2 linked regions of the Homo sapiens genome follow. The protein of the gene in region 1 interacts with the protein of each later gene in a pairwise test. Each region holds a gene or a part of one and is shown on either strand. Other genes may lie near its edges.

Region 1 (8,882 bases):
CCCAGCACTTTGGGAGGCTGAGGCGGGCGAATCACTTGAGATCAGGAGTTTGAGACCAGCCTGGCCAACATGGTGAAACCCCGTCTCTACTAAAAATACAAAAATTAGCCAAGCATGGTGGCGCATGCCTGTAATCCGAGCTACTCTGGAGGCTGAGTCACGAGAATCGCTTGAACCCAGGAGGAGGAGGTTGCAGTGAGCCAAGATCATGCCACTGCACTCTGGTCTGGGTGACAGAGCAAGACTCCATCTCATAAGAAAAAAAAAAAAAAAAGTTGGATGTTTAAGATGTGTTGGGCAACTTCCAGCCGCCCATTTCACTCTGCAATAGAGCATGTGCTGTGTATCCTTCTGTAGCCTTTGTTATGCTCAGATAATCATATGCAAACATGCACACATCTGTATGGGGTTTGTGTTACAAAAACAAAGCCATGTCATATGTATTTCTTTGTTAACACAGAACAGTAGTTACTTTAGGTTGGTTGGTATGAATTAACAGCTTTTCAAAGCTGCCTAATATTCTAGGTTATGGGTTTTCCAATTCAGTCGTTCATATATTGATGGAAATTCACTCTGTTTGCCCATTTTTACCACTACAAACAATGCTGCAGTAAATGCAGAAGACTTTGAAAACATTATATAATCACATGGCTTGTTTGGGGGCAGATTCCCAGGAGTGGGATATTGGATCGAAAGGGTTTATGTTTTCTTTCTTTTGAGACAGAGTCTCACTCTGTCGCCCAATCACAGCTCACTTCTGCCTTTACCTCCTGGGCTCAAGGGATCCTCCCACCTCAGCTTCACAAGTAGCTGTGAGTACAGGTGCATATTTTTTTATTTTTTGAAAGGGGGAACAATTTTAATAGACAACAGAATGCTTTCTAAAAGATTAACGATAGTAGGTGTTAGCACATTTATGTTCTGCTATTTTCATTTATTTTGAGATTCCTCATTATCACCTTAATTTGTATTTCCCTTATAGGCAGTGTCTAAATACTGGTAAATAAATTAGCTAGTCTCAGTCGCACAAACTCAGCACAGTCTAAGGTGGTACTGCTATAACAGAATCCCTGAGACTGGGTAATTTATTTATTTGAGACAGGGTCTTGCTCTGTTGCTCAGGCTGGATTGCAGTGGCGTGATCATAGCTCATTGCAGCCTTGATCTCCTGGGCTCAAGTAATCCTCCTGCTTCAGCCTCTTGTGTAGCTGGGACTATAGACATGGACCACCATGACCAGCATTTTTTTTTTATTTTTTATTTTTTTAGTAGATGTTGCCCAGGCTGGTCACAAACTTCTGAGCTCAAGAGATCCTCCCACCTCAGACTCTCAAAGTGCTGGGATTACAGGCATTAGCCACCACACCCAGTCTGGGTAATTTATAAAGAATAGAGATTTCTGGCTGGGCACGGTGGCTCACGCCTATAATCCCAGCAGTTTGGGAGGCCAAGGTGGGTGGATCACCTGAGGTAAGGAGTTCGAGACCAGCCTGGCCAACATGGTGAAACCCTGTCTCTATTAAAAATACAAAAAATTAGCCAGGCATAGTGGCGGCACCTGTAATCCCAACTACTTGGGAGGCTGAGGCAGGAGATTCATGTTGGCCAGGCTGGTCTCGAACTCCTGACCTCAGGTGATCCACCCACCTCGGCCTCCCAAAGTGTTGGAGCCACCGCGCCTGGATGGAGATTAAGTTTCTAACACATGAGCTTTGGGGGACACATTCAAACCTGTCCACCTAAAGTAATCAAAAGGGTCAGAATCTAATTTCAATAGTTTATTCAAGCACAAAACATGAGGGTGGACTACCTGGAAACACCGACTCCAAATGAATGGAGTCAGTGTTTCGAAGTAGAGAAGTTAAGGTTTCATTTACACACACAAAGGCAGAGGAGTTTTAGGATTACATTCTTCATATATGGTCAGTGCGTACTTACAGTAATTTGGTTATAGGCCGAGTGCAGTGGTCCACTCCTGTAATCCCAGCACTTTGGGAGGCCGAGGCGGGCAGATCACCTGAGGTCAGGAGTTCAAGACCAGCCTGGCCAACATGGTGAAATTCCATCTTTACAAAAATGTAACAATTAGCTGGGCATGATGGCAGGTGGCTGTAATCCCGGCTACTCAGGAGGCTGAGGTGGGAGAATCGCTTGAATCTGGGAGGCAGAGGGTGCAGTGAGCCGAGATTGTGCCATTGCACTCCAGCCTGGGCGACAGAGCCAGACTCTGTCTCAAATTGAAATAATAATAATAAATAATTTGGTTGTAAGCAGTGTTTCTTTTTGGGAGGCATACATTTAACATTTTTTACAGAGGGTGTAATAGTCATGGGTTTGCTGTCATCTGGTCTAAGTAAAGCAGGACAACAAAAGGGAAGTTATCTATAAGAAGGGTCATTAAGAAGGCAGCAGGTTTTTGTCCCATGTTTAATTCTCTCCAATAATTGTACAGAACAAGAAAAACAAGCAGGTCTAATTTATTATCTCAGAAAAAATTATAACCATACATGGCTGAGATCACAGTCACCTCTCTCTCCAGGTTTCAAGTGTTGTGGGGGTTCCAACATCTTTTCTATTTATTTTAAAAAACCACAGCAGAGGGGTTGTGCACCCTTTCATATTTCTTGGCTATTTGGATTTGTTCTTCTGAGACATGTCCATTCCTATTTTTTGCTCATTTTCTATTGTTTTTGCCTTTTTTCTAATTAGTTTTTAAGATGTATTTGTATATTACAGGTATTGGCTCTTTATCATGTATGGCAAATATTTTTTCCTCATCTATCATTGTCTCTTGACTTTTATCAGTGTTAATTTTCGGGGTAATCAAGTATATCTTTTTACAGTTTGAGGTTCCTGTCTTTGCAGTCTCTCAACCCCTAGAATACCCTTATAGTCTCCTAAATTATATTCTAAATGTTTTGTTGTTTAAATTTAAGATTCTACGCCATTTATCAACGAAATCATCTTTTCCTGATTGAAATAAAATACTACATTTGTGGTATTTCCGGATTCTGTTGCACTAATGTGTCTTTCCTACCAACAATATCATATTGTTTTATTATTGTGGTTTTTTGTTTTTGAGACGGAGTCTCATGCTGTTGCCCAGGCTGGAGTACAGTGGTGCGATCTCAGCTCACTACACCTCCGCCTCCTGGGTTCAAGCAATTCTCCTGCCTCAGCCTCCTGAGAAGCTGGGATTATAGGCGTCTGCCACCACGCTCGGCTAATTTTTGTACTTTTAGTAGAGACGGGGGTTTCACCGTGTTGGTCAGGTTGGTCTCGAACTCCTGACCTCAGGTGATCCCCCCGCCTTGGCCTCCCAGTGCCTTGGCACTGGCCTATTGTGTTTTATATACTATGTTTGTCATCTGGAAAGGCAAGCTCCTGCTCCGTCTTGTAAAGTTTTCCCAGTACTGTAGTAGTTATTTTTATTTTTATTTTTGACAGTCTCGCTCTGTCACCCAGGCTGAAGTGCAGTGGCCCCATCTCGGCTCACTGCAACCTCCGCCTCCCGGGTTCAAGCGATTCTCTTGCCTCATCCTCCTGGGAAGCTGGGATTGCAGGAGTGCACCACTACACCCAACTAATTTTTGTATTTTTCGTAGAGACGGGGTTTCGCCATGTTGGTCAGGCTGGTCTCGACCTTCTGACCTTGTGATTCGCCCGCCTCGGCCTGTCAAAGTGCTGGGATTACAGGCGTGAGCCACCGCGCCCGGCCGTAGTTATTGTTTTATACGATTTTAAGATCATTTAATTAAATCCTCTGAACTCCGTGGAGATTCCAATAGAAGTGTGTATTTGTAATTTTTGAACTGACAACCTTCTGTTACCTTTCATCTAATATGTTGTTGCATCAGTTCAAATACTGTTTTAAATCCTTCGATAAGTCGTCTCTATTCGTAGCTTTTTGGGTCACTTTTTTTTTTTTTTTTTTTTTCCAAAAAAACAGGAAGTCTTTTTACCTGCAGCGTCAACTGAGCCGGTTTTCCGGCGCGCGCCAGCCCCTCCCCTGCTCCCGCCCCAAGGTTCTGCGTTACCATGGGAACAAAGGTTGACGTCACTTAGGGCTTCCTTGCTGGACCCAAGGGTCGATGGTGAAGGGAGACGGGTGGAGAGGCGGTTTTGCTCCATCTACGCATGCGCACTTCCTGCTCCAGGACTCCCCCGCCGTAAATCTCGTTCCGGCTGGGCCTTTTCCGCCGCGACTCTCGCTTAATCCCGGAGAAACTGCCCCCTGGGGGAGGGGAGTAGAAAAAGGCTGGAACCAGCGACAGCCAATCCCGCGACACTACAACGCAGGCGAGATTGATTGAGTCCACCACCGCAGCCAATGAGAGAGCTCGCCGTCGCTCCGTCATAGAGTTCGCCCCACCCCATCCCCTCCTTTCTGGACTCGGAGCTCAGTTCACGCAGTAACAAATGAAGTGCGCGCTGCGACACCTCCCAGCCCACCGAACTCCGCCGCCATTTCCTCGCTTGGCCTAACGGTTCGGCCAATCCCAGCGCGCATCAAGAAGGACTGAGGCTCCGCCAATCGGAGGCCGCCGATTTCGACCCTTCGCCTCGGCCCGGCCCAATCCAGGCCCCGGCCCCGCCGCCCCCGGCCCGCCCCCGCGGTGCCCTCTCTCCTCCCTCTTTGTGCGTCTCGCGCCGCCGCCGCCCGCCGCGTGAGAGGACGGGCTCCGCGCGCTCCGGCAGCGCATTCGGGTCCCCTCCCCCCGGGAGGCTTGCGAAGGAGAAGCCGCCGCAGAGGAAAAGCAGGTGCCGGTGCCTGTCCCCGGGGGCGCCATGGCGACCGGAGCGAACGCCACGCCGTTGGGTAAGCTGGGCCCCCCCGGGCTGCCCCCGCTCCCCGGGCCCAAAGGAGGCTTCGAGCCGGGCCCTCCGCCTGCACCCGGGCCTGGGGCGGGGCTGCTGGCTCCCGGGCCGCCGCCGCCCCCGCCCGTGGGCTCGATGGGGGCCCTGACCGCGGCCTTCCCCTTCGCGGCGCTGCCTCCGCCGCCTCCGCCGCCGCCCCCTCCGCCTCCCCAGCAGCCGCCGCCGCCTCCACCGCCACCGTCCCCCGGCGCCTCGTACCCGCCGCCGCAGCCGCCCCCTCCGCCGCCGCTCTACCAGCGCGTGTCGCCGCCGCAGCCGCCGCCACCCCAGCCGCCGCGTAAGGACCAGCAGCCGGGCCCGGCCGGCGGCGGAGGAGGTGAGTCGGGCCGAGAGAGCGCGAGAGGCGTCGCGCGGACGGGCCCGGCCGCCTGAGGGGCGCGCGGCGGCGGCGACGGCGGCTGCACGCGGCAGGGGCGCGCGTGCGCGCACGGGGAGGCCCGGGCGGAGGCGCCCCTGGGCGCGCGCGGCCTGGTTCTAGGGCCTCGAGTGCGCACGCGCGCTGTGGGGGGAGGGCTGGGCGGGCGGGAGGCGCTCTGTGCGCAGACGCAGTGAGGTGGCCGGGCTGTGCGGCGCAACTGTATAGACTGGGGGCCCACTATTGCTGTCCAGTCCGCTGGTGTCGGGAACAGGGGTGGCGGGTGTTCAGCGCTGGACGGGGTGCTAGCTGTGAATGCCAGCAGGGCGTGAAAGCCTCACCTGATGACGTGCAGCGACTCCCTTCTGGTCTTGAGGAACCAGAATGGGAACCGTACCAAGGATAGCTCCTCTGCTTCTACAGCAAGGCAGGGTTTTCATCCGGGAGAGGTTGGCATGCTTCAGATGATGGTTGGGTCTGATCTTTCTTGGTCTCTTTTGGGGAGAGAATTTTAGTTTGTTTTTTTTTTTAAATCTGTTCAGTATGTTTAGATCTCAGTCTGATCGGCTGCCCTGTCGCTTTGTTTTAAAAAGCTTTTCCCTCTGATCCTGTACCCCTTGGGAAATAGAAGGACTCTTTTGTGGCAAATGTAGGGAGTTTCTGCCTATGTACGGGGAAAGGAGAACTTGGCTGCTATTGTATAGGTTGTTGAATTTTTGATAGATCCTTTTAAGAGTTCAGACCCTCAGTGTCCAACTGGCCAGGAAAACTGAATGCTGATCTTGGCTAAACTTATGAAGACAAAGGTGATCTTGTTGAAGAATTGGGCTTTTCCCACTTGGTAGGGTGTAACTAGGTTTAGTTGTGGTCCGGCCTCTCGTACAAAAGTGACTGGTGAGGGGAGTGGAGGTGGGTGGAGCCCCCAGTCCCATCAGGACTGCTTTACAAATCTATGATTCTTCAGTGTATTTTTGTCTCCCCTGGGGATTTCAGAGCACTCATGGTTGATGTAGTATCTATCTAACACTCTCTGCAGCCATATGCATTAAGATTACCACGTTTATATATCTGACAGTTTTTCTAGACAAAAGAAGGTGAAATGTTAACTTGCCTGACCAAGGACCACATACCCTTGTAGTGGCCATAAGCTTTAAATCTCTGATCTCTGAGGTTTGTTTTCTGTTTTTTTAATGTTTAAGTTTTAGGTTAAGCTCTCAGCTTCACAGTCTGCTGAGTTTCTGTGTAGTACCTTAAATACCCTTAGCTGTCTGTTGATAACTACTTGTATTTACATCGGATGGATTTTGTCTCTGCCTTTTAGACTTCCCAAGTAAGAAGCGGAAGAGGAGCCGCTGGAACCAAGACACAATGGAACAGAAGACAGTGATTCCAGGAATGCCTACAGTTATTCCCCCTGGACTTACTCGAGAACAAGAAAGAGCTTATATAGGTAAATATACGTTCTGCATCCAAATGCACTTTGAGATTGTTACGATTTATTCTGAGCAAGATCTGCATTTTTTGAAAGTTTGAGATTGTAGTTATCTTTTTTGAGATGAGATACTTTCACGACTTTGGTATCATCTGTCAGTTTTTGCCCAGTGAGTTCTGCATTTGCAGCTCCTTGTTTTGGTCTGTTCGTAACTGCAGTGTTCTCCATGAGTATCAGGAAGGTAGGGTTTCACTTAGGAGTAAGAACAGTCCCCAGTCCAGCAGCCACCCTTTTCAGCTGCTGTTCATTGCCAGTTGATGAGGTGAGTGTCATCTGCCTCTCTGGACAGGCCCCAGTGGAGAACACCGCAGGTACTGTAAACCAAGTACTTTTCACAGCGTGGCCTTTCACCATAATTTTATATTTCTCCCCCTAAAATGTGGTCTTTTACTTTTTATAGGTACTTTCTGAAAAAAAAAAAATGACAAAAAGTGGTTCTGAAAGTGTGTTTACAATTTACCCCTTTTTATTTTCTTGAATTTAAGAGTTTAACCTTCCCTTCAACATCTTTTCTGGTTTGGTCTATGGAGAGCTGTCTTAAAATGAAGGCTCTTGTATTTACTTTTAAAGAACTCTGCTGGGAAAGGGATATTGCATGGATATGGAATGAAGTGCTAGGATAAAAAGGTTTTATTTGCTGGGAGGTTTTGAGAATTAATGACTATCCACAGTGGAATTGAAATTAACCTCAAAATTGCTTTTTTGGAAAAAAAAGTTTTTAATGCAAGTTTTATCTTTATATACCTGTGCAGCTGTCTCAAAAAAGTTCACTTTATAAACATTTCCTACTAACCAAATAAACATCCCCTTTGGAGGAAATTCGGGCAAAGACCTCCTAAACCTACGAGGCTGTGGCCTTCACAACCAAAAAGCTTCAAGGCCAGCATGTTACTACTTTTGAGGGTCTTAATTTCCTGTTTTTTAGACTGCTGAGAATTTTGAGGCGTTGGAATTGTCTGTCTCCTTTCACAGTACTACTAATACTTGTTCTTTCCCCTACTGTTCCTGTCTACTCCCACCCATTCCATTGTGTCTCATATTAGACTAGTCTGGGTCTTTACATCCTTGTGAAATGCCCCTAGTGGAGTGATATCCCAAGAACACAAGCATACTTAGAAGATGGGAAGAGCACAAATTCTTTATATCTCCATTTCTGTTTTTGTGGAGGGCTAGTTAGTTCACTGGGCCCTAAGGACTATTTATAGCTATAATCAAAATAGAATCAAAGGAGAGGTGTAGTTCTCCACAGAAGAGAATGACCCTTTTTATTTAGATCAGGCCCCACATCTCCATAGTCAGCTAGGAAGACTCACCTTCTCCCCTCAGTGAAGGTGACTTTCACCTCGAGTTGTTGAGCTTAATACTCAACTGCAAAGTCAGAACTTTTTAGGCATAAAGGAGCTTGGGGAACCATGTGTCTTACTACTTTTCTGTCTCCCACGGTACATACTGCTTTGTCCAGGATGCCCTCAATATCTTTTTTTTTTTTTTTTTGAGAGACTGAGTCTTGCTGTGTCGCCAGGCTGGAGTGTAGTGGTGCGATCTCGGCTCACTGCAACCTGCGTCTCCCGGGTTCAAGTGATTCTCCCACCTCAGCCTCCCAAGTAGCTGGGACTACAGGCGCACGCCACCATGCCCAGCTAATTTTTTTTGTAGTTTTAGTAGAGACGGGGTTTCACCATGTTGGCCAGGATGGTCTCGATCTCTTGTCCTCATGATCTGCCTGCCTTGGCCTCCCAAAGTACTGGGATTACAGGTGTGAGCCACTGTGCCCGGCCAGTATTTTCTTTCGATAATAATGGGTTTTCATTTCTTCAGGGTTTTAGTGTGTGGGTGTGGTATAGCCCTGTGGATGTATTTAAAGTTAGAAGGAATCTTTGGTTAGACACGCATTAATCCTATCTTGGAGCCAGCTCAGTTTTAACCCAACCTAGTAACATTTGCCCTTATTGGAGATGCCTGCTGAAAATTCTCAGATGCTGCGAAGGTAAGGAACAGGTGGTTATTCCGCATGTTGAAGAAAGCTGCTCTGGCTCTGCAGTTCCCATTATCTTGGAAAATCAGCTGTGTAACATTTCCCTGGCGTCACTGGCAACTTTTGTGAAACCCTCATCTCTCTTTTTCATGCACAGCCTCATTGGTCAAGGCCCGAGGGCC
Region 2 (8,928 bases), on another chromosome or scaffold:
ATGGTGAAACCCCTACTAAAAATACAAAAATTAGTCAGGTTTGGTGGCGGGCACCTATAATCCTACCTACTCCCAAGGCTGAGCCACAAGAATCACTTGAACTCGGGAGGCGGAGGCTGCAGTGAGCCGAGATCACGCCACTACACTCCAGCCTGAGCAACAGAATGAGACTTTGTCTCAAAACAAAAACAAAAACAAAAACAGAATTGCAGTTACTATGTATGTGCCGAGAGGTCCTCAGGCACTGCAGTGAAATCACATGTTAGTGTGGCATATCTTTTTTTTTGAGATGGAGTTTTGCTCTTGTTGCCCAGGCTAGAGCACAGTGGTGCAATCGCGGCTCACCGCAACCTCCACCTCCCAGGTTCAAGGGATTCTCCTGCCTCAGCCTCCCGAGTAGCTGGGAGTACAGGCATGCGCCACCACGCCCGGCTAATTTTTGTGTTTTTAGTAGAGACAGGGTTTCTCCATGTTGGTCAGGCTGGTCTTGAACTTTCGACCTCAGGTGATCCGCCCGCCTTGGCCTCCGAAAGTGCTGGGATTACAGGTGTGAGCCACTGCACCTGGCCTAGTGTGGCACATTCTAAGTTTGGAGAAAAATGTCCAAGTAGTTCCGTTTGAACATTAGATCGTTTTACTACATTCCTTTCAATGCCACCACATCTTTGAGAAGCTTGGCTGTTAGTGGTTGCTGTGAAAAAAAGTAAGTACTGTGCAAAAATCAGTGTGGAACAGGAAATGACAGTGGCCACATCCAAATTTGGGAGGTTGTGCAGTGTATATACTAGAAATTTTGGTTGCTTAAAATAAAACATTTTAATTTTTAAATAAAAATATTTTTCACTATGTGTGTATTTAAAAAAAAAAAACGGCTACTAAGTTTTTAGGATGTAAACACTAAGTTCTTTGGATCTAAATACTTAATAAATGAAACCATTAGGTATTTTCGGCCTAGGGAAGCCATGAGAAAAACTACTGAGACACTTAAGGTACCATAAACCAACCAAGTTTTTGAAACCCTCTAGCCCAGGACAGTTACAGAATTTAAAAGTGGTATCACAATCTTTAATAGCCTTTTTTTCCTACGCTACCCAGTAATAGTAATAATGATAATTACTAAGAGATACTGAGCACTCATTACATGTTAAGCATTTTGCATAATAATTTTTAACCTCACAACAACTGTATGTGCCAAGTACTATTATCACTCTTGTTTTGCAGACAAGGAAACGCGTGTTTAGAATAGCTTCCCCAAGGTAACCCATGCCAGTAAGTTACATCACTTAAAGAATCTTCTGTTGCTTTAGAGAAAGCTTACTGTAAAGTCATATAATTCTCAAATCACTTGAAGATGACAACTGTGGAAGGAGGGAGGATATTAAGTCTTAATTTTCTCCAGCCCTCTTCAATGTCTAATGTTGACAGGGCACATTGGCTCATGCCTGTAATCTCAGCAACTCAAGAAGCTGAGGCGGGAGGATCGCTTGAGCCCAGGAGTTCAAGACCAGCCTGAGCAACACAGCAAGATCATATCTCTTAAAAAAACTAAAAAATTAGCCAGGTGTGATGGCACACTTGTAGTCACAGCTATTTGGGAGGCTGAGGCAGAAGAATCACTTGAGCCCAGGAGCGCAAGGCTGCAGTGAGCTATGATCATGCCACTGCACTCAAGCCTGGGCAACAGAGCAAGACCTCTGTGTGTGTGTACATACATATATATATGCATGCATAATTTTTTTCAAAATATTAACTTTTGCTAGTACATAAAAGAATACAAGATCACCTCCTACTAGCTAGGTTACAATGTAGCAAGTTTCATCAAAACATATCAGTTTCACTGGCAATAATAAATCTGTTCAGCATTATTCTTAGCAAACTAATACAAGAAGAGAAAACCAAAAACCACATGTTCTCTCTTATAAGTGGAAGCTAAATGATGAGAATTCATGGATACAAAGACAGGAACAACAGACAATGGGGCCTACTTGAGGGTGGAGGGTGGGAGGAGGAAGAGGATCAGAAAAAATAACTATTGGGTCCTAGGCTTAGTACCTGGGTGACGAGAAAAATCTGTACAACAACAACAACAAAAAAACAGTAAAAAGAAAATGTATATATACACAATGGAATACTATTCATCCTTTAAAAAGAATAAAATGCTAGGCTGGGCACGCTGGCTCACGCCTATAATCCCAGCACTTTGGGAGGCCAAGGCGGGTAGATCACTGGAGTTCAGGAGTCCGAGACCAGCCTGACCAACATGGTGAAACCCCGTCTCTACTAAAAATACAAAAATTAGCTGGGTGTGGCGGCGTATGTCTGTAATCCCAGCTACTTGAGAGTCTGAGGCAGGAGAATTGCTTGAACCCGGGAGGCAGAGGTTGCAGTGAGCTGAGATCGCGCCATTGCACTCCTTCCTGGATGACAGAGTGAGACTCCATCTCAAAAAATAAAATAAAATCCTGTCATTTGCAGCAAAATAAAAAAATCTGTTCAGGAGAAACATATTGTTGAGATAAAATAATCTTTGAAGAAGAAAAAAATTAGCTTTATGGTTTACTGGTTATACTTTACCAGTACTTTTTGTGTTTGTGTGTAACATTAAATCTCATTTAGATATAAGAAAGCTATCAGCTGAACGATGTGGGTCATATAAGGTGTCTTTTCATTTAGAAAGGGCTCTTGAGTAACATGCAGACCCAAGTTTGAATCCCAGCTTTTCTTTACTTGCTGTGCATCTGTTTTTTCACCTGTGAAAATGGCATTAGGCCGGGCGCAGTGGCTCACGCCTATAATCCCAGCACTTTGGGAGGCTGAGGCGGGCAGATGGATCACTTGAGGTCAGGAGTTCGAGACCAGCCTGGCCAACATGGTGAAACCCTGCCTTTACTAAAAATATAAAAATTAGCTGGGCATGGTAGTGGGCACCTGTAGTCCCAGCTACTTGGGAGGCTGAGGTAGGAGAATCGCTTGAACCCAGGAGGCAGAGGCTGCAATAAGCTGAGATGGCGCCACTGCACTCCGGCCTGGGTGACAGAGCCAGACTCTGTCTCAAACCAAAAAAAAAAAAAAAAGAAAATGACATTGATATAACCTTCACTGGGTTGTCAAGATTAAACAAGGTAATTTATGTAAAGAGCTCCCAGCATAAAACCTAATATAGAGATATTCTCCTTTCTTCCTTTCCTTTTCAGGTGGCAGGGTTAGAATCATTTGATTCTTTTTTTTTTTTTTCTTTCAGTAGTGGTTCTCACTAAGCCAAGTCTGCCATCTATGTAGGGTAACTTTAGTATATACCAGTCATGTATCTATGGCTTGGCTTGCAATTTAGTCACTCATAACTTAGATACCAGCTGCATGAATAACTTAATTTCAGTGATGCCCTATGAAACTATTATGGATGTGTTCACTTTTCCTTTTCATTAAACATCCTTTCCTGATGTTCCACCTTATATAAAGGTGTTCGCTATCTGATGGCATCTTTACTTTGACAGTGATCCCCACAAGAGATACAGAAAGCTAAAGATTCTTCACCTCTCAAGCATATACCTTCATTAGTAATGTGTGCTGCCAAGATCTCATTTCTACGCATACTCCCCAGCCCTCTCCCTCACCTGCTCTTCTTTCAGCAACTTGGTTTTTCCCCCATCACTAATAAGGTTATGAGAATGCTGCCTTTCTACTGGACAGTGAACTGGACAAATGCAGTAACTTGCTCTGATTACTTTTGTGACTGCACAGTGATCTATTCCAATCAGTTACTTCAAAAGAAATTGGACAAGACAAAAAGGAACATTTTAAACATGACCTTACCATTCCAACATGCCGATCAACATTAAAAAGTCTTTTGTTGGAACCTTCTTCATAAAGTTTAGAAAGGACTAATTTTTCTACCCCAAAGACAACACCATCTTTGCATCTGATTCCAATAGCTGTACTGAAACAAGGAGAAGAAAATCAGTTTTTTAACTGAAAATAAAAGAAACTTCATAAACTTAAGTTTAACAAAAAAACAAAATAAGTAACATTTAAGGCATGCCAAATACCTTAAAACATTTGAAAACCAGGAAGAGAAAACACACTAAAGTGTAATAAATACATTAAATCCATATAAATATCATGTGACCCTCCCTCCAGAATCTAGTACATCATTTGACTAAAAATATATTAATATGTAAGTATAAAAATGATGCTAACGAAACACAATATGGCTCAGTGTCTGGCTTATGATAATCATGTTATAAACAAATGTTGACATAAATTCATGTCCATTAAAAATGGTACATAACAGACATAAAAGGTTAGATACAAACTAAAAAGTTAACAGTGACTGCTCTGGGTAGAAGGATTATGATTTATTCTTCCTTTTGCTCATCTCTTTCTTCCAATTTTTCCATAATAAACATATTGCTTCTAATACGTATATAAAAATAAAATATATGTTCTGCTACAACTGTTTAAAATAAAAAGATCTTAAAATAACCTCTTAAGACCAGGCATGGTGGCTCACACCTGTAATCTCAGCACTTTGGGATGCTGAGGCAGGAGGATCTTTTAAGCCCAGGAGTCCAAGACGAGCCTGGGCAACATGGCGAAACCTGGCTTAGCCAGGCATGGTGGTACACGCCTGTAGTCCCAGCTACCTGGGAGGCTGAGGTGAGAGATTGCTTGAGCCCAGTTAGGTGGTGGCTGCAGTGAGCCAAGATTGCACCACTGCACACCAGTCTGTGCAACAGAGTGAGACCCTGTCTCAAACACACACACACACAACCTCAAGTAAAATGTGGAGAAATTACTTGTTGCCATTTCAAGATGAAAATGTGTTACACTTTATTCTTCTATTCCTTTTTGATAAAGGTAGTTCTGATCGGAAACAATAGAGACAAAATAAGCAATGCTTGATTGTACAGTTTTCTGGTAAAATTATCTCAACTTTCTCTTTCTTCTTTTTTTTAATTTTAAAGAAATGGAGTCTTGCCATGCTGCCCAAGATTGAATTGAAGTCTGAGGCTCAAGTAATCCTCTCACCTCAGCCTCAGTAGCTGGGACTACCGGCACAACTTCTCTGTTTTGGATAATAGCATCACCAAGCTCTACATCCTCCATGTTGAGCTTCTATTTACTATTAATTTTTTTCTTCAAAATTTCCTTCATGTCCACTTCTTTACAATAATTATACCAGCATTGGGATCCTTATAATTTCAGGCCTAGATTACTACACCATCTTTTCTACTTCTCTAATCCGTTTAATCTAAGACCAGCCTAATTCCTAGCTGTGTTTCATTTTGCCATAGTCAGAATCTAAAAAGGGATCCACAATCTAAAAAGCAGGGGAATTGTGTTATTCACAGGCCTCTTAAAATCTGATGAAACTATGGCATTTCCTCCCAGAAAAATGAACAACAGATGCACACAACAAATTTTCTAAGAATTTCTGACACTCCTTCCCCAACACTTTAGGTGTCTTCCATGGCTCCCCTTGCAAGTTTAAACTCCTAAGGGTCTGGCAGAACCCCCTGAGCATATTCAATTTCCTGTTATAAATTCTGTACTCTACTGGTTACCTCACTGTCAACCTTCAAAAACCTCATGTTCATTTTTGATTCCATGTCTTTGAGGTTATCCTGGATGCTAGAATACATTTCCTCTTCACTACTGCCTATTTAAATGAATTTCCCCAAAAGGTTTGCAAACTTAGTTGAACTCAAGCAGTACAGGTCAGAATGTAACCTCAGGACTTTGGAAGGCCCAAGTGAAAGGCTTGCCTGAGGCCAGGAGTTCAAGACCAGCCAGGCCAACATTTTGAAACTCTGTCCCTATTTTTTTTTTTTTTTTGGAGATGGAGTCTCGCTCTGTTGCCCCAGCTGGAGTACAGTGGCGTGATCTTGGCTCACTGCAACCTCCATCTCCCGGGTTCAAGTGATTCTCCTGTCTCAACCTCCCAAGTAGCTGGGATTACAGGCGCGCACTGCCATGCCCGGCTAATTTTTTGTATTTTCAGTAGAGACGGGATTTCACCATGTTGCCCAGGCTGGTCTCGAACTCCTGAGCTCAAGCAATACACCTGCCTCAGCCTCCCAAAGTGCTAGGATTACAGGCGTGGCTCACGCCCAGCAGGAAGCCTGTCTTAATTATCTCAACTCAACATCTTCCACACTGTTTAAAACATTCTTGAAAATCTGGAAATCTCTGAAATCCTTTCAGGCAGTCTTCGAGGTCAAAATTATTTTCATAAGAATTCAAAGACTTCGGCTGGGTGCGGTGGCTCACACCTATAATACCAGCACTTTGGGAAGCCTAAGCAGGCGGATCACTTGGGCTCAGGAGTTTGAGACCAGCCTGGGCCACATGGTGAAACCCTGTCTCTACAAAAAATTTGCCAGGCGTGGTGGCACATGCCTGTAGTCCCAACTACCTTGTGGGGCTGAGGGAGGAGAATAGCTCGAGACCAGGAGGTCGAGTCTGCAGTAAGCTGTAATCACACCACTGCACTCCAGCCTGGGTGACAAAGCGAGATCCTATGTCCTGCCCCCAAAAAAAGTTTTTTTTAAAAAAAAGGAATAATAAGCCAGGCGCAGTGACTCACACCTGTAATCCCATCACTTTGGGAGGCCAAGGCAGGAGGATTACTTGAGCCCAAAAGTTCAAGACCAGCCGAGGCAACATAGTGAGTGAGACCATGCCTCTTTTTTAAAATAAATAAACATTTTTTTTTAAAATAAGAAACTAGCATTTGTTCACTTTGGGTGTAGTATCAAAGGACAGGTTAATACATCTTTAAAAAGAAGAACTTTTAGGCCGGGCGCCGTGGCTCATGCCTGTAATCCCAGCACTTTGGGAGGCTGAGGCAGGCGGATCACCTGAGGTCAGGAGTTCGAGACCAGCCTGACCAACATGGAGAAACCCTGTCTCTACTAAAAATACAAAATTAGCGGGCCATGGTGGTGCATGTCTGTAATCCCAGCTACTTGGGAGGCTGAGAGAATTGCTTGAACCTGGGAGGCAGAGGTTGCGGTGAGCCAACATTGTGCCATTGCACTCCAGCCTGGGCAACAAGAGTGAAACTACGTCTCATTTTTAAAATCCTAGCTTTTTCTGAGACAGAGTCTCTGTTGCTTAGGCTGGAGTGCAGTGGTGCAATCTTGGCTCACTGCAACGTCCACCTGCCAGGTTCAAGTGATTCTCCTGCCTCAGCCTCCCAAGTAGCTGAAACTACGACGTGTGCCATCACACCCGGCTAATTTTTGTATTTTGTTATTTTTTAGTAGAGACAGGGTTTTACCATGTTGGCCAGGCTGGTCTCAAACTCCTGACCTCAGGTGATCCGCCCGCCTCAGCCTCCCAAAGTGCTGGGATTACAGGCGTGAGCCACCACGCCCGGCTGCATTTTTTCTTCATTCAGGAAAAAACACATTCGTTTTTAAGGTTTCAATTTTTTAAAGATATTTCCTCATATTTGCATAAATCTGACTTTTTAAAATCGTATTTAGGCTGGCCACAGTGACTCACGCCTATAATCCCAGCTCTTTGTAATCAACGAGAAATATAGGACTGGGGCTACTCTCTGGGAGTCCGAGGTGAGCGGATCACTTGAGGCCAGGGGTTTGAGACCAGCCTGGCCAACGTGGCAAAACCCCGTCTCTACTAAAAATGCAAAAATTATCCGGGCATGGTGGCACATGCCTGTAATCCCAGCTACTGGGGAGGCTGAGGCAAGAGAATCACTTGAACCCAGGAGGCGGAGGTTGCAGTGAGCCAAGATCGTGCCACTGCACTCTAGCCTAGGTGACAGAGTGAGACTCAGGTCTCAAAACAGAAACAGACATAGAAAAAATCTTTGCTGAATCGAACATGTGACTAATTGCATAAGACATTTAAAACACAAGATGTATGAGAAATAAAAAATAACAAGGTCACAAACCTAATGGCTGAGGAAGCCTATGATACAAATCAAGAATTTGAAAATGGAAAACAAAAAGATGATAATGAATGTGATTTATACACTCTGCAACATGGAAAATCTAAGTGGATAATCCTGGAATCAACGAGAAATATAGGACTGGGGCTCATGGAAAGCATCTGGCCTAGAAAGAGATCTGGAAATGAATAAATTGAGATTTGGGGACATATACTAATTTGTACCAAAGTAACATAACAAAGCCTAATCGCCAAAAATATATAAAATAAAAGGAGACATGTAATACCTGGTTAAATGTTTCTTACCTACTATTTTCCACAGCCTTCATAGCATATTCAACTTGAAAAACTCTTCCGTCAGGAGAGAATGTAGAGGCTGACAGGTCATACTTAAGGAGAAAAGGGCAACAGTAAGCTTGTATCTTTGGCAGTAATGACCATACAGTTTCTTCCCCTCTAAATGGCTGAAACATCAGGAACCTGTTATATCCCAACAAAGACCTTGCTTTCAAGAGAGGAAAGGGAAACTTGTCAGAGCAGCAACAGTAGCTAAGATAAAGCTATATACCTTCGATTTCAGCTATTGAAGAGTAATGGATACAGGTCCCAGGTGAAGTCAGAACACTTTTCACCCAGACTACAAAACTCATTTTTGAAAAAGATTAATATGGGGCAGTAGAACCAGCACTGGAGTTCGAACATTTAAATTTGTAACGATAACTCTGCCATTAACAAACTAAAAGACTTCAAACAAATCATTCGGCATTCACCAAGCAGTTAATGAGTATCTATTATGTTACTATACGGAATACAAAGGTATACTCATTCATTAAGTCCTTCAGTTTCACATCAGACATGAATCTAGGTGCTAGAGGTACAGCAGTAAATCAGAAAAGGCACTAAGATGAAAATAAAAGAGTAAAGCAATGAACTACTACAGACTACATCATCAGGGAAGGCCTTCTGGGCAGTTATATTTAGGCTGAGTCAAACCTAAATGACAAGGAGCTA

What was found. Proteins that work in one complex are often made in the same cells at the same time.
Region 2: the proteins of SF1 (region 1) and PSMA3 interact in binary tests that used the Homo sapiens proteins (3 or more experiments, as listed by UniProt).

What each region holds. Positions count from the first base shown.
Region 1 is NC_000011.10:64,774,299-64,783,180, reverse strand, and holds the start of SF1 (splicing factor 1), read left to right. Parts: upstream 1-4,638; 5' UTR 4,639-4,788; coding exon 4,789-4,819; coding exon of another isoform or gene 4,820-5,194; intron 5,195-5,419; exon of another isoform or gene 5,420-5,682; intron 5,683-6,554; coding exon 6,555-6,683; intron 6,684-8,882. UniProt on the Homo sapiens protein: Necessary for the ATP-dependent first step of spliceosome assembly. Binds to the intron branch point sequence (BPS) 5'-UACUAAC-3' of the pre-mRNA. May act as transcription repressor.
Region 2 is NC_000014.9:58,247,128-58,256,055, reverse strand, and holds part of PSMA3 (proteasome subunit alpha type-3), read right to left. Parts: intron 8,307-8,928; coding exon 8,224-8,306; intron 3,938-8,223; coding exon 3,814-3,937; intron 1-3,813. UniProt on the Homo sapiens protein: Component of the 20S core proteasome complex involved in the proteolytic degradation of most intracellular proteins. This complex plays numerous essential roles within the cell by associating with different regulatory particles.